Linked DNA regions of Homo sapiens: regions 2 and 3 are each reported to be linked to region 1. The links are microRNA targets in miRTarBase. Many come from high-throughput screens and were not tested one by one. Region 1 holds a microRNA gene; each other region holds the end of a gene's coding sequence.
The links. The annotated mature microRNA hsa-miR-6722-3p reads UGCAGGGGUCGGGUGGGCCAGG and lies in region 1 at 2,072-2,093, opposite strand. An mRNA with a match to its seed (bases 2 to 7 or 8) in the 3' UTR can be bound and repressed. Matches are read on the target gene's strand: a 7mer-m8 pairs with bases 2 to 8, a 7mer-A1 pairs with bases 2 to 7 and ends in A, and an 8mer does both.

Region 2: miRTarBase lists SARS1 as a target of hsa-miR-6722-3p. Seed matches in the 3' UTR shown: 7mer-m8 at 300-306.
Region 3: miRTarBase lists LAMA5 as a target of hsa-miR-6722-3p. Seed matches in the 3' UTR shown: 8mer at 3,506-3,513.

What each region holds. Positions count from the first base shown.
Region 1 is chr9:136,744,832-136,749,141 of GRCh38, forward strand. MIR6722 (microRNA 6722) reads right to left here and starts at 2,139; the gene lies at 2,062-2,139. It overlaps LCN6 (lipocalin 6), which reads right to left and starts at 3,694. Exons shown (of 7, transcript NM_198946.3): 1 at 3,563-3,694; 2 at 2,593-2,732; 3 at 1,013-1,083; 4 at 339-449. The coding sequence starts at 3,652. It overlaps LOC100128593 (a long non-coding RNA gene), which reads left to right and starts at 1,330. Exons shown (of 3, transcript NR_033913.1): 1 at 1,330-1,370; 2 at 2,247-3,741; 3 at 3,915-4,310.
Region 2 is chr1:109,237,683-109,241,682 of GRCh38, forward strand. SARS1 (seryl-tRNA synthetase 1) reads left to right here. Exons shown (of 11, transcript NM_006513.4): 11 at 49-500. The coding sequence ends at 206. Among named protein-coding and RNA genes, the nearest start is that of CELSR2, 9.9 kb to the right of the region's middle. RefSeq lists enhancers at 1-518, 2,459-3,154 and silencers at 1,643-2,057, 3,165-3,459.
Region 3 is chr20:62,305,794-62,309,793 of GRCh38, forward strand. It overlaps LAMA5 (laminin subunit alpha 5), which reads right to left. Exons shown (of 80, transcript NM_005560.6): 79 at 3,923-4,000; 80 at 3,272-3,682. The coding sequence ends at 3,543. It overlaps ADRM1 (ADRM1 26S proteasome ubiquitin receptor), which reads left to right. Exons shown (of 10, transcript NM_007002.4): 4 at 404-527; 5 at 855-941; 6 at 1,578-1,659; 7 at 1,803-2,035; 8 at 2,228-2,385; 9 at 2,575-2,677; 10 at 2,862-3,069. The coding sequence ends at 2,968. Among named protein-coding and RNA genes, the nearest start is that of ADRM1, 4.8 kb to the left of the region's middle. RefSeq lists an enhancer at 1-496.

The sequences.
Region 1 (4,310 bases):
CCTGCCCTGGGATGCTGGCCCCGGTCCTTCCAAAGCCACCTCCAGTGCAGCGAGCCTCAAGGTGGGGGAACTTGGCCTGCATGTGGTCCTGTGCGGCCCACCCACCACACAGCTCCCCACATGGCCCCCGAGCGGCCCACTCACCACACAGCTCCCCATGTGGCCCCAAGCGGCCCACTCACCACACAGCTCCCCACATGGCCCCCGAGCGGCCCACTCACCACACAGCTCCCCACGCGGCCCCCAAGCGGCCCACGCACCACACAGCTCCCAACGTGGGCCCCGAGTGGCCCACGCACCACACAGCTCCCTACGTGGGCCCCGCACAGCACACTTACTGTACAGCTCCACGGTGTTGAAGGGCTCGTCCCCGAACTCCAGCTGAGTGAAGATGATGGCATAGTCTCTGAAGTTGGTGGCCAGCACCCAGAGCTCCAGCACGCCTATTGCTAGGAAACAAAACCCCCCGCCTCAGGGGAGGGCAGCTGCTGTATCCATCCAGGGGCCGCTGAGCTGATGCTGGCCACAGGGACAGAGGGGCCAATTCAAGTGAGAGCCCCCCTCCCCAGGAGACCCCTCCAAGCACACCCAGAGCCCCCAAGCTTTGTCCCCCACCCCCGACCCCACCTGGTGCCAGCATCAAGGGGCTTTCAGACACTGACGGACAGACAGACAAGCACTGCCCCAGCCTGTCCCAGGTGTGAACGAGGAGCGGCTGGGTCACACCAGCCCAGCCCTGTACCTGTAGACAGCCACTAAACAGGCCCCTCGCCCTCTGCACCTATGGGGACCTTGGCTGGACCTCACTGGTGTCTGAGCCTGCTGGGAACAAGGTTCCAATCCTCTGTCCAGGGGCTTCTCTTCACCCTCAGGATGGGCAGCAATCCCAAGACCAGAACCTGTAGCCTCCTGGCTCTCGGGAGCGGAGTCAGCCCTCCGTCCCTGCCCGCAGGGGGCCTGGGGATGCTGCAGGGAAGAACGGCCTGGGTGAGGCCGTGGCCGTCAGACTCACAGGGATTCTCAAACACCCATCCGGAGTTTCGCTTTATCAGGTCCATGACACTCTGGTCACACCCTCCCAGCCTGGAAAAGAAGGGGCCTGTCACCCACTCAGGGTCAAGACCCCGGGGCCCGGTGAGAGGAGACGGAGCTCAGGAGTCCAGGCCAGGCCAGCCAGCAGTGAGGCCAGAGCTTCCATCTTCTGCCAGATGCCCCGATGCCCGGAAACCTGTTCTCGGAGAGTGGACGGCGTGGGAGTCCTGAGAGGGGCGGACACTCCCATTCACTTCCTGAGAGATCCTCAGTGCCAGATCTCCACCAGGAACGCTGAATGCTGCTGAGGACACAACAGGAGACTCGACAGACGGGAGGTTCGCCCGCGACTCGGGGGAAAGATGGGGTGGGGTGGGGGTTCGCCCGTGACTCAGGGGAAGGATGGGGCGGGGTGGGGGTTCGCCCGCAACTCAGGGGAAGGATGGGGCGGGGTGGGGGTTCGCCCGTGACTCAGGGGAAGGATGGGGTGGGGTGGGGGTTCGCCTGCGACTCAGGGGAAGGATGGGGCGGGGTGGGGGTTTGCCTGCGACTCGGGGGAAGGGGCCGGCGCTCCCTAAGTGGTCAGTCCCCAGAGTGAGCAAAACCCAGCAAAGGTGCAATGGTGTTTGCCAAGGAAGGAAACTGAGGCTGAGTCCATGCGGGAGGAACAGCAAGAAGAACTAGGAAAGCCACGTGGGAGCTGCCACCTCAGCCTGGAGCCCCTTGGTCCCAGCTCGCCCTGAGGCCAGGCCTGGCCCGGGGGGTGCAGTGGGGCCCCTGCCCATACCCTGCAGGCGCAGGTGCAGGGGGAAGGCACGCTGGTGAGGAGGGCAGGTTCTTCTCTCTGGGCCCCGTACCTGGCTCAGTGGTTCAGGCCTGGGCTCTGTCGCCAGCCTGCCAGGGGGTAGACACCCACCACGCCACCCAGCAGGCCACTCTTCTGTGAAGGGAGGCGGGCACCGACTCCTGCCCCAGCACGGCTACCCCCACAGCCCGGCTGCCCTGTAGGTGTCCCCTGTGTAGCACGGCCGCCCCACAGCCTGGCCCACCCGACCCCTGCACGCCGCCACCAGCCATGCATGTGGTCGGGTGCGCCTGCCTGAGGCCACAAGGCCAGTCTGGCCAACAGCGTCCATGACCATATTGTTTGGGGATTTATGTTATGAAAGAACCAGTGGTTCTTAGGTCCGAATGCATTATCCTCCTTTAAACAGAATTCCCGAAAAAGGCCTGCTGAGAGGACAGGCTTCCCCAGCTCTGACCACAGCCTGCAGCCCAGATGACCCAGGACAGGGATGCATGAAGGAGCATAGTCAGAGCAGTGCCCGCCGCGGTATTGAAGGTGGGAGTGCCACCTGGAGGCCCCAGGGACACAGATGTGAGTAGCTGGGCAGAGGGCTGGTGGCTCTGCACAGAGCCCAGTGGGAAAAGTGACGGGGGTGCAGAGGGGCCGTGGGAAGCCCCCAGGCCGCGGTGCCCGGGAGCAGATGTGCAAAGTACATGATGTGGCTGAGCCACAGTCCTGCCTGCGGGAAGGCCTGGCAGGACCCGCCCACTCACCCGTGCTGAGAGGACAGCGTCCGCAGGTTGTTTTCTGGAGTGAGGGTCACCACCACCCCCACGACGTTCTTCATGTCCTTCTCCATGGCAAAGCCCTTTTCCCGGGAGGCCACCGCAAGCACGTACCAGGGCCCAAGAAGCTGCATTGAGGCGGCTCCCGTTAGGGCCGCCAGCCCTCCAGCCTCCAGCCTCCAGCCTCCAACCCTCCAGCCTCAGCCTCCAGCCTCCAAACCTCCAGCCTCAGCCTCCACCCTCCAACCATCCAGCCCTCCAGCCTCCAGCCTCCAACCCTCCAGCCTCCAGCCTTCCAGCCCTGCAGCCTCCAGCCTCCACCCTCCAACCATCCAGCCCTCCAGCCTCCAGTCTCCAACCCTCCCGCCCTCCAGCCTCCAACCTTCCAGCCTTGCAGCCTCTAGCCTTCAGTTCTCCAGCCCTCCAGCCTCCAGCTTCCAACCCCCCAGACCTCCAACCCTCCAGCCTCCAGCCTTCCAGCCCTACAGCCTCTAGGCTCCAGCCCTCCAGCCTTCCAACCTCCAGCCTGCAGCCCTGCAGCCTCTAGTCTCCAGCTCTCCAGCCCTCCAGCCTCCAGTTCTGCAGCCCTCCAGCCTCCAGCCCTCCAGCCTCCAGTTCTACAGCCCTCCAGCCTCCAGCCCAGCAGCCTCCAGCCTCCAGTTCTCCAGCCCTACAGCCTCCAGCCCTCCAGCCTCCAGTTCTCCAACCCTACACCCTCCAGCCCTGCAACCTCCAGTCTCCAGCCTCCAATTCTCCAGCCCTCCAGCCTCCAACCCTCCAGCATCCACCCCTCCTGCCCTGAGGCTCCTGCCTGTGGGACTCCCCAAGGGCTGGCCCAACTAATTCCCCACTGCTCATGCTGGTCTGGGCTAGCCCTGGGGGGCCCAGAAGCTGTGTGGCCTTAAAGGAGGGGCTGGCCCCCGAGGACCAGCTCTCCCCACCCCCAGGAGGACTGTACCTGCTCAGGGTCCAGTCTTCCCAACCACACGGCCTGGGCCCTGGGCACCGAGACCAAAGCCAGAAAAGCAGCCAGCAGCAGGCCGCCCATCCTCCCAGGTCTACACTGCGCCGCAGGCCCAGGATGTGCAGTCCCTCCAGGCCCTGGAGACCCGTTTATATGGCTCTGAATTTCTCCGTGTGGGTGGCACTAACTGCCAGGAACCCTCCTGGCCTCCTGCAAAATTACCCAGGGGAGCACTGAGCAGTGGCAGCCTCTGAGCCCAGATCAGACCAGCTGCACAGCCAGGAGAGGGTCTGGAGTGTGTGGATCAACCATACTATACTGATCCCCTGCTTTCTTCCACCAGAAGGTTCCAGAATGGGCATCCTAAAGCCAGCCGCACCACCTCCCCCGTTCCTGGGGACCCACGCTCTCCCTCGCCCAGCCTGGGAAGCAGGGAGACTGCTGTCCGCTGCCAGGCCCGGCAGGAGGCCAAGGTCAAGCCCAAGGAGAGGAACCAGGGCGAGAACAAGTGGTTCTCAGGAACTGCGGTTTTGGATATCTTTTGTTTCAATCATTAAATATAAAAAGTCCCTGAAAGCCTTTTGAAAAAGGCTCCCACCTCCTCCTGGCCCACCCACCATTCTGCTTTGTGGCCTGGCCTCTGTCCCCCACAGCCAGCACCCCCAGAACAGACTGTCCTGTTCCTTCCACCTCTGCAGCCCACCATCCGGCCCTGCTGCCTCCTGCCTCCCCTCCCTGGGAC
Region 2 (4,000 bases), not on the chromosome of region 1:
TGACTCACTGAGAAACAACAGGTCATTTGGTTGGCTCTTCCCTCCCAGGACTGCAAGAACTGATCCCCTTTGTGAAGCCTGCGCCCATTGAGCAGGAGCCATCAAAGAAGCAGAAGAAGCAACATGAGGGCAGCAAAAAGAAAGCAGCAGCAAGAGACGTCACCCTAGAAAACAGGCTGCAGAACATGGAGGTCACCGATGCTTGAACATTCCTGCCTCCCTATTTGCCAGGCTTTCATTTCTGTCTGCTGAGATCTCAGAGCCTGCCCAACAGCAGGGAAGCCAAGCACCCATTCATCCCCCTGCCCCCATCTGACTGCGTAGCTGAGAGGGGAACAGTGCCATGTACCACACAGATGTTCCTGTCTCCTCGCATGGGCATAGGGACCCATCATTGATGACTGATGAAACCATGTAATAAAGCATCTCTGGGGAGGGCTTAGGACTCTTCCTCAGTCTTCTTCCCCGGGCTTGAACCCCGCCTCTGAGGTTCTCCCTGATATACACTTCTGCTTTTCCTTCCAAATTAGGCTGCTCCCTCCAGTTAGCAAGTCACAGAGCCTTTGAACAGGTAAGCGAAGGGAGGGGTACACTTAGAAAAAGCTCAAGGGGAAGGTGGAAGATGGAGTCTGAATCACAAAAGCTTGCAGGGCAAGGGCCAGGATCCTCCTTTACAAATATATTCCTGCTTGAAATCATTGAGGTAGGACTAGCTTAGAGACCAGAACTGTTTTAAAAGCCTCTTAGCACTTCTGTTCCCTACAAAGGACTCTGTGGAAAGCGAGAGGCTGTATTTAATCCAGAAGAGCCCCTAGCTTCTATGCCTAGCATGGGTTGGGGACTTATTAACAGCAGTTTCTCTCGTTACAGCCATCCCCACATGGGGAGACCAACTGCATACCAACTTGCTGCTGCACCTCCAAAGGATTGGGATAGCCAGCAGGGCAGAGGAGAGGAGAAAATGTTGTAGCCCCTTTGTGGAGCTCCCACTGTTGCCCTAATAGCCAGTTCCTTTCTCAGGGGAGGCTGATGTTCAGGCTGTTTATTTACCTGCTGCCTTTCATCTGCAATCTACAAACCCTTTACTTTAATAACAGCTTCTGTTAGTTTAGTGCCTCTCTCCTAGGAGGTTAAAATACTCCCTATAGATGATCTCTTTTATCTTTGTGATGGTCCCAGAAGGTAGGGTGGGGACATGATTATATGATTATGCTTATTCCATCCTTTGGAAGACAGAAATACAAGGACGGTAAGGGAGATGAGACAACGTGGCCTGATGGAGGTCGGAAGTCCTGACTCCTCGGCAGTGCTTTATGTTTCTTTGGGAGGTTGAGAGCTGGAATGTGAACTGGGCTGTCACTTAGGAGCCTTTATCTCACCTCAGCTTCCTTAGTCCCTGAGCAGCGACTTGGGCCTGCTGGAGCATAGTACCAAGGAAAGGGGCCATGTGCTCCATTTTCCACTGGGGGCTTGAGATTGATCCTATTAATCTTGCTGCTGGAAACCCTGTCAAAACTGAGGTAGGTGCGTGAAGGGGTGACAGTGGCTCTCTTGTCTTGCCTGGCTATGCCAGCTGGGGGCCCACAGGCAGACCCGCCTGGGCCGTAGCCCATTGCCCCAGCTCTGGGATAACAAAGCCGGGACAAGGGGACAAAGAGCAAGCTGCTCCCATTTGTAATTCAGAAGGACCAGAAACTCACATTTCCTGTGGCCTCAACTATTTGGTTTGAAGAAAGGCAGCGTACACAGTGTGCAGGAGGCTAGTTTTGCCCCACCCCCTATACCATTCCAGAAGCCCACTGGGAACTCTCACAGGGCCCTGAACGCCCCTGCTCTGCCTTAGCTCTGTCTTAGAAGTCCCTACAGCTGCCTGCACCACTCCCCACGCCTACCTGCTTAGGCTCCTGGTGCCTGTCACCTTCCTACCAGTAGGAGGCTCTGCTTTTTGCCATGGCCCTGAGAGCTCTGTGGGAGGGCAGAAGCTGGGGCTTTGAGTCCCTGAGGACCCAGCTGACTTACCTGCTGGAGCTGGCTGCCTGGACTCTCAGCTGCTTTGTGCAGAGAGACCCTCCTGCCTTGGGCAGCCCAGCTTTCCCTGCCAGCCTTCCTCCTGCCCGTGTAGGGACTGGTGTAGGAGCCTGGCTAGGAAGATGGCTGTATGGACAAACTGGCTTGTTAGCAGAAAGTAACTATAAGGGACCCCATGCTTCCAGAAGCCAGAGGAGAGGAAGTCAATGGTAGTGAAGGCAAGGATGACTGTGGCTGAGGTCCCTCCCCACAGGTCATACCCAAGAGCACAACAGCAGGAGGGCACACACGGTCACCGAGTGCTTACCTTGTGCCAGGCACCATTAGGAGCAGGGTTTACAGAAAGAAGGTAACACAGTTCCTGCTCACAAATAACTGTTGGGAAAGGTGTGGTTCGCCTTCCTTCAGAGAGGGAAAACCAGACACTCTCCCTCCCTGAGGCAGTGGGATGGGGCTGATGCAAGCTTCATTTAGGAGGGGCCGACCCACCTGGAAGCCGAGCAGTTGGGAACAGGCCCAATAGCCTTGACTCCACCCTGGTAGTTGCCTCCGCATCCCACGCCTGATGCCCTCATCTCTGGCACCTTGACCTGCCCCATCTCCAACCTCAGCTACCCAGGTTACCTCAGTTAGCAAACACCCTCCAGAGGCCTAGTGGAGTGAGTCAGAGCCCTGGGTCCCTCACCAACCCTGGGTTCCCACACCCAGGTATTCAGGGCCCAAGATGCAGGTCTGGGTGCTTTAGGCAGGGAGTGAGGAAACACTGGGACCAACAGTCTGGCCTCTCCACCAAGAGAGACAACCATAAGCCAGACTTCTAGAAACTCTAAAGAGGCTGGTAACTGGGGACCCAACGTAAGGCCGAGGGACCTGCCTGCGCTCACAGTCCAGGCTGGGCAGGGCAGCTCATTAGCCAAACACTGAAACCTCACTCCTGGGAACCAACATTCTCCTAGCCGTCTGTCCTGCTTTTCCTCCCCTGAAGCTTTTCCGGTTTACCCCAGGTCCTGAGAATGCCTCCTCTCCCCGAGTCCCCATCCTTCCCCAGGGGGTACGCGGCGGGGGCGGCCCTGGCTGCACTCCCAGGATGAGTCTGACAGGCAGAGCTGGGATGGGCGCCAGACAAATGTACTGCGTGTCGGAGCCTGTGCCGGGATGAGGGGCCTGCCCCGCTCTCCCAGTTACCTCCCAACATGGGGTTCCCCAGCAGCTCTTCCCAGGTACAAAAGGGGAGTGCTTCCTTGCAGCCTGGACTTGGCCAGGTCCTGGTGGGGCTGATGCCTCGGCCTCTGACATTGCCCTTTTAAGAGCCCTCTCCGGCGGGGCCAACCTGTAATCCCAGCGCTTTGGGAGGCCTAGGAGGGCGGATCGCCTGAGGTCAGGAGTTCGAGACCAGCCTGGTTAACATGGTGAAACTCTGATTCTACTAAAAATACCAAAAATTAGGCGAGCATGGTGGTGCGCACCTGTAATCCCAGCTACTCAGGAGGCTGAGGCAGGAGGATCGCTTGAACCCAGGAGGCATAGGTTGCAGTGAGCCGAGATTGTGCCACTGCACTCCAGCCTGGGTGACAGAGTGAGACTCTGTCTCAAAAAAATAAAAATTAAAAAAGCCCTCCCCATGGGGGTGGGGTGGGGGTGCTGCAGGCAGGTTCATGTTGCAGAAACCCAGCAATGTGCAGCTCCCCATCCATCTGCCAGGAAAGAAGCCCTGAACTCCAGGTCTTTACCTCTCTGGGACCTTCCGGCGGAGGTAGGGTGTCCCAGCCACCTCCGAGAGAACCTCTTGTTACGGAGGGGCGGGTCCTCTTCTGCTGCTCTGACTGGCTGGTTCACAAGCCCTGCATTTTGGAGATTGGTCCCTGTCCCTCCATGGGACTTGGTTCCCTTCCCCCTACACAAACCTGCTGTCAAAATGGTCTGGGAGTTTATTTTCATTGGGGTGTAAATTGCTGATAAGACGGTGTGACCT
Region 3 (4,000 bases), not on the chromosome of region 1:
GGTGTGCTGAGCGGGCCAGTTCGCTGCCTTCCACTGGTTGAAGGAAGGAGACGGGTGTGTAAAGAACCGCACCCCAGAGGGCAGGAGGGTGAGAGGGCTTGGTCTGGCAGCAGCTAAGTGCCTTCGGAGCTCTAGGCTCCCCATTTGTGAAATGGGCGGAGGGGGACAGGGCACACCCGGGATTGCGGCGGATGGGGACAGGGCGCAGAGCATCGTGCTCAGGAGGCGCCACTGCCGTCCCCTCACCTGCTGGGCCGGGTCCTGTCTCCTCAGCATTGTGTGGCCAGGCACACGCGCCTCTGCGTCTCAGGTCCCTCACCTGGAAGCCAGGTCAGAGGATGGCTGTGGTGGCCCTGGGTGAGCTGGCGCCAGCTCCTGCCCTTACATGCCCTTCCTCTTGCAGGAACCCAAGACAGACCAGGATGAGGAGCATTGCCGGAAAGTCAACGAGTATCTGAACAACCCCCCGATGCCTGGGGCGCTGGGGGCCAGCGGAAGCAGCGGCCACGAACTCTCTGCGCTAGGCGGTAACTGTCACATGTGTCACGTGAGCTCAGGGTTTCCTGGGAGGCCAGAGTCTACTGTGGATGACTCGCCCCCTCAGCACAGGTTGTTTGGAAGTGGAAATAGAAGATTCTAAAAGTTAGAGACCCTGTGAGCTCCCTGGGTCACTCCCCACTCCCACCTTCACGGGGTAGGACGGGTCTGCATCCCACCGTCGCCTCACTTCAAGTGGTGCCCCCTGTAGGGTTCAGGGGCAGCCGAGTGCGGTGCTCAGCAGAGGCGCAGGCAGTGCGGTGGGGCCCGCGTGGATCTGGCTGGGGCAGGCCCGCCTGAGCTGCAGTGTTTTCCAGGTGAGGGTGGCCTGCAGAGCCTGCTGGGAAACATGAGCCACAGCCAGCTCATGCAGCTCATCGGACCAGCCGGCCTTGGAGGACTGGGTAACGTGCGCCACCCGGGCTCTCGGGCAGCTTCTGCTGGGAATGCTTTGAGGCCCGGTCTCTGTTTCCTTTAAACTTCTGCTGGCTCTGTCTGCGTAGTGTCGGGGAGCCTGTGTGTCCGCAAGCTGGTTCCCCTTTGGGAATGCGCTTGTTTGCCTGTGGCTAGAGCTGGGTAGGCGAGGGCTTCTGGGCCCCTGGTGAGGACCCCAGCTGGGTACTTCAGAGGAGGGTGGCTGGCCGAGCGGTGGGGCTGGAGGACTGGAGGGAGCTGGGGTTCCTGCGCCCTGGGTCCCCTGGCCCTACATGGCTGCCTGCCTGCTGCCAGCTCATGGAGTGCAGACCCGTGTGCTTGGCCCTTCAGAAATGCTTGTCCCTTTGGGTGGGATCTGGACTGAATCTTCTAATCTAAGCACATGAATTGTGTAATGGGATGGAACAGAAATGACCTTGCTTCCAGAACACAGCCGCAAGTGTCCACCCGCCCCACGCCGCTCCTCCAGGCCTGTGGGTCCCCACCGCCCCGCTTCTTCCTGGCTTTGGTGTTGGGAATTCCTGCTCCTCTGGCCTGGGGAGGGGCCAGGCTCTTTCTGGTGGGCTAGAGGGCATCCTGAGCTCGCATTTCCTTGCCCCTCGCAGGTGGGCTGGGGGCCCTGACTGGACCTGGCCTGGCCAGCTTACTGGGGAGCAGTGGGCCTCCAGGGAGCAGCTCCTCCTCCAGGTGAGCCTCATCGCTCCTGCCACGCAGGTGCCACGGTGTTAAGGGAGGGGCAGTGGGGAATCCTGGCCCAGCACCCTGGACCCTGCGAGTAGGCCCTGCCGTGTGGGGCGTGTCCGCTCCAGCGGTGCCCTCTCTCTTCGCAGCTCCCGGAGCCAGTCGGCAGCGGTCACCCCGTCATCCACCACCTCTTCCACCCGTGCCACCCCAGCCCCTTCTGCTCCAGCAGCTGCCTCAGCAACTAGCCCGAGCCCCGCGCCCAGTTCCGGGAATGGAGCCAGCACAGCAGCCAGCCCGACCCAGCCCATCCAGCTGAGCGACCTCCAGAGCATCCTGGCCACGATGAACGTACCAGCCGGGCCAGCAGGCGGCCAGCAAGGTAACGTGTGCTGTCGCCTGGAGCTGGGTGGGGGGCATGGGGCCTGCTGACCCTCGCACGCTCACCTTCCAAGGCATCTGCCTAGTGTGCGCGCCTGGGGTGCTGGGGCCATGGGCTGAGTCCCTGCTTGCATGCCTTCCATGTGGGCACTTAGGCTGTCATCGAGCTGATGGCCGTGTTCTTGTGCCCCAGTGGACCTGGCCAGTGTGCTGACGCCGGAGATAATGGCTCCCATCCTCGCCAACGCGGATGTCCAGGAGCGCCTGCTTCCCTACTTGCCATCTGGGGAGTCGCTGCCGCAGACCGCGGATGAGATCCAGAATACCCTGACCTCGCCCCAGTTCCAGCAGGTAGAGGCCGGGCCCAGGGTGTCCTCCACTGTGTGCTCAGGGAGTGGGCAGGGGGGAGGAGGAGGCCCTGCCCCACCTTCACCATGGCCAGTGCTTCATGTGCCTGACCCGCAGAGCTGGCAGCTGAGCAGTGTGGCTCTGGGGTGCAGCCCGGGTTGGAGCTCAGCCCTCGCCTGGCTCTTCTTGCAGGCCCTGGGCATGTTCAGCGCAGCCTTGGCCTCGGGGCAGCTGGGCCCCCTCATGTGCCAGTTCGGTCTGCCTGCAGAGGCTGTGGAGGCCGCCAACAAGGGCGGTAAGTGGCTGCGCCTGCACCTCCAGGCCAGAGCCAGGGGCAGGGTCCATTCCTGTCCCCCTGGATCTGCAGAAGTGGGGCTGAGGGGGTAAAGGTCACAGCCCTTCTGCCCTTGATCCCATCGCTTTGATCCCCAGTTCTGGGCAAGGGTTAGACACCACCTTGTGTCTTTAACGTGTTCTAGATGTGGAAGCGTTTGCCAAAGCCATGCAGAACAACGCCAAGCCCGAGCAGAAAGAGGGCGACACGAAGGACAAGAAGGACGAAGAGGAGGACATGAGCCTGGACTGAGCCACGCGCCGTCCTCCGAGGAACTGGGCGCTTGCAGTGCGTTGCACACCCTCACCTCCCACCCACTGATTATTAATAAAGTCTTTTCTTTTACCTGCCAATGCTTAGTTTCTTTGCCCAAAGGGAGTTTCGGCTGGACAGGTGCTAGCGTGGGGAGCTGCTGTAGGGTCCCAGAGACAGTTAGTTATTTGACCTAACAACGGAAAACGGTCACCCCAGGAAGAGTTTGGTGCCTCTGTCCAGGCCGGTTCCAGATCTGTCTTGAGACTCACTCTCTCCGTATTTAAGTCAACATTCATTCGGTTACACAGAAGTTACTTTTTAATTTTTAAGGAGGAACCAGTGATGATTGGTGACAAATCTCTCACAATTAAAAATGGGTGGAAGGGCCAAATATAAAAACATTTTGCAGTATTTTATTCTTTCGTTTAAGAAGCTATAACTTAAACCATCTTCAGAAACAAGATCTGTCACCCGTAGAGCTTAGAGTCCAAATAGACACCTATGAGGCGAGCACAAGGGGCGGTGTGAGGCAGCTGCAGGGGCCTGACCAGGGGCCGGGGTTGGCTGTGTCCTAGGCGGCTGGGCAGCCACTGGCCCCCACTGCCCCGTGGACCTCCACAGAGCGAGTCATGGCGACGGGGGACCGGTTCACCGCCAGCCTCCTCATGCAGCCGCAGTAGGCGGGGGGCCAGGGCTGCACGGCCATGGGCTCTGGGGGCACAGGGAAGATGGAAGAAGGCTGGTTGGTGGGCAGCTAGAGACCCACAGGCCCTTCCCAAACGTCAGTGCCCCACCCAGCCCCTGTCTCATTCCACATCATAGGAGGGTGGTAGGGGGGTGGGAGGAGGGTGGGAGGGGGCAGGGGGTGGAGGGGTGGGGGGAGGGTGGTAGGTTACGCAGCACCTAGTCCTGAGGGGCAGCTCCCCCACCCTTGATCAAGGCCGCACTCACCAGGCAGGCCCCCGAGGTACAGAGGGGCTGGGGCACCAGCTGCAGCCGCCAGCAAGGGGCCCACGGTGTGGTTGCTCT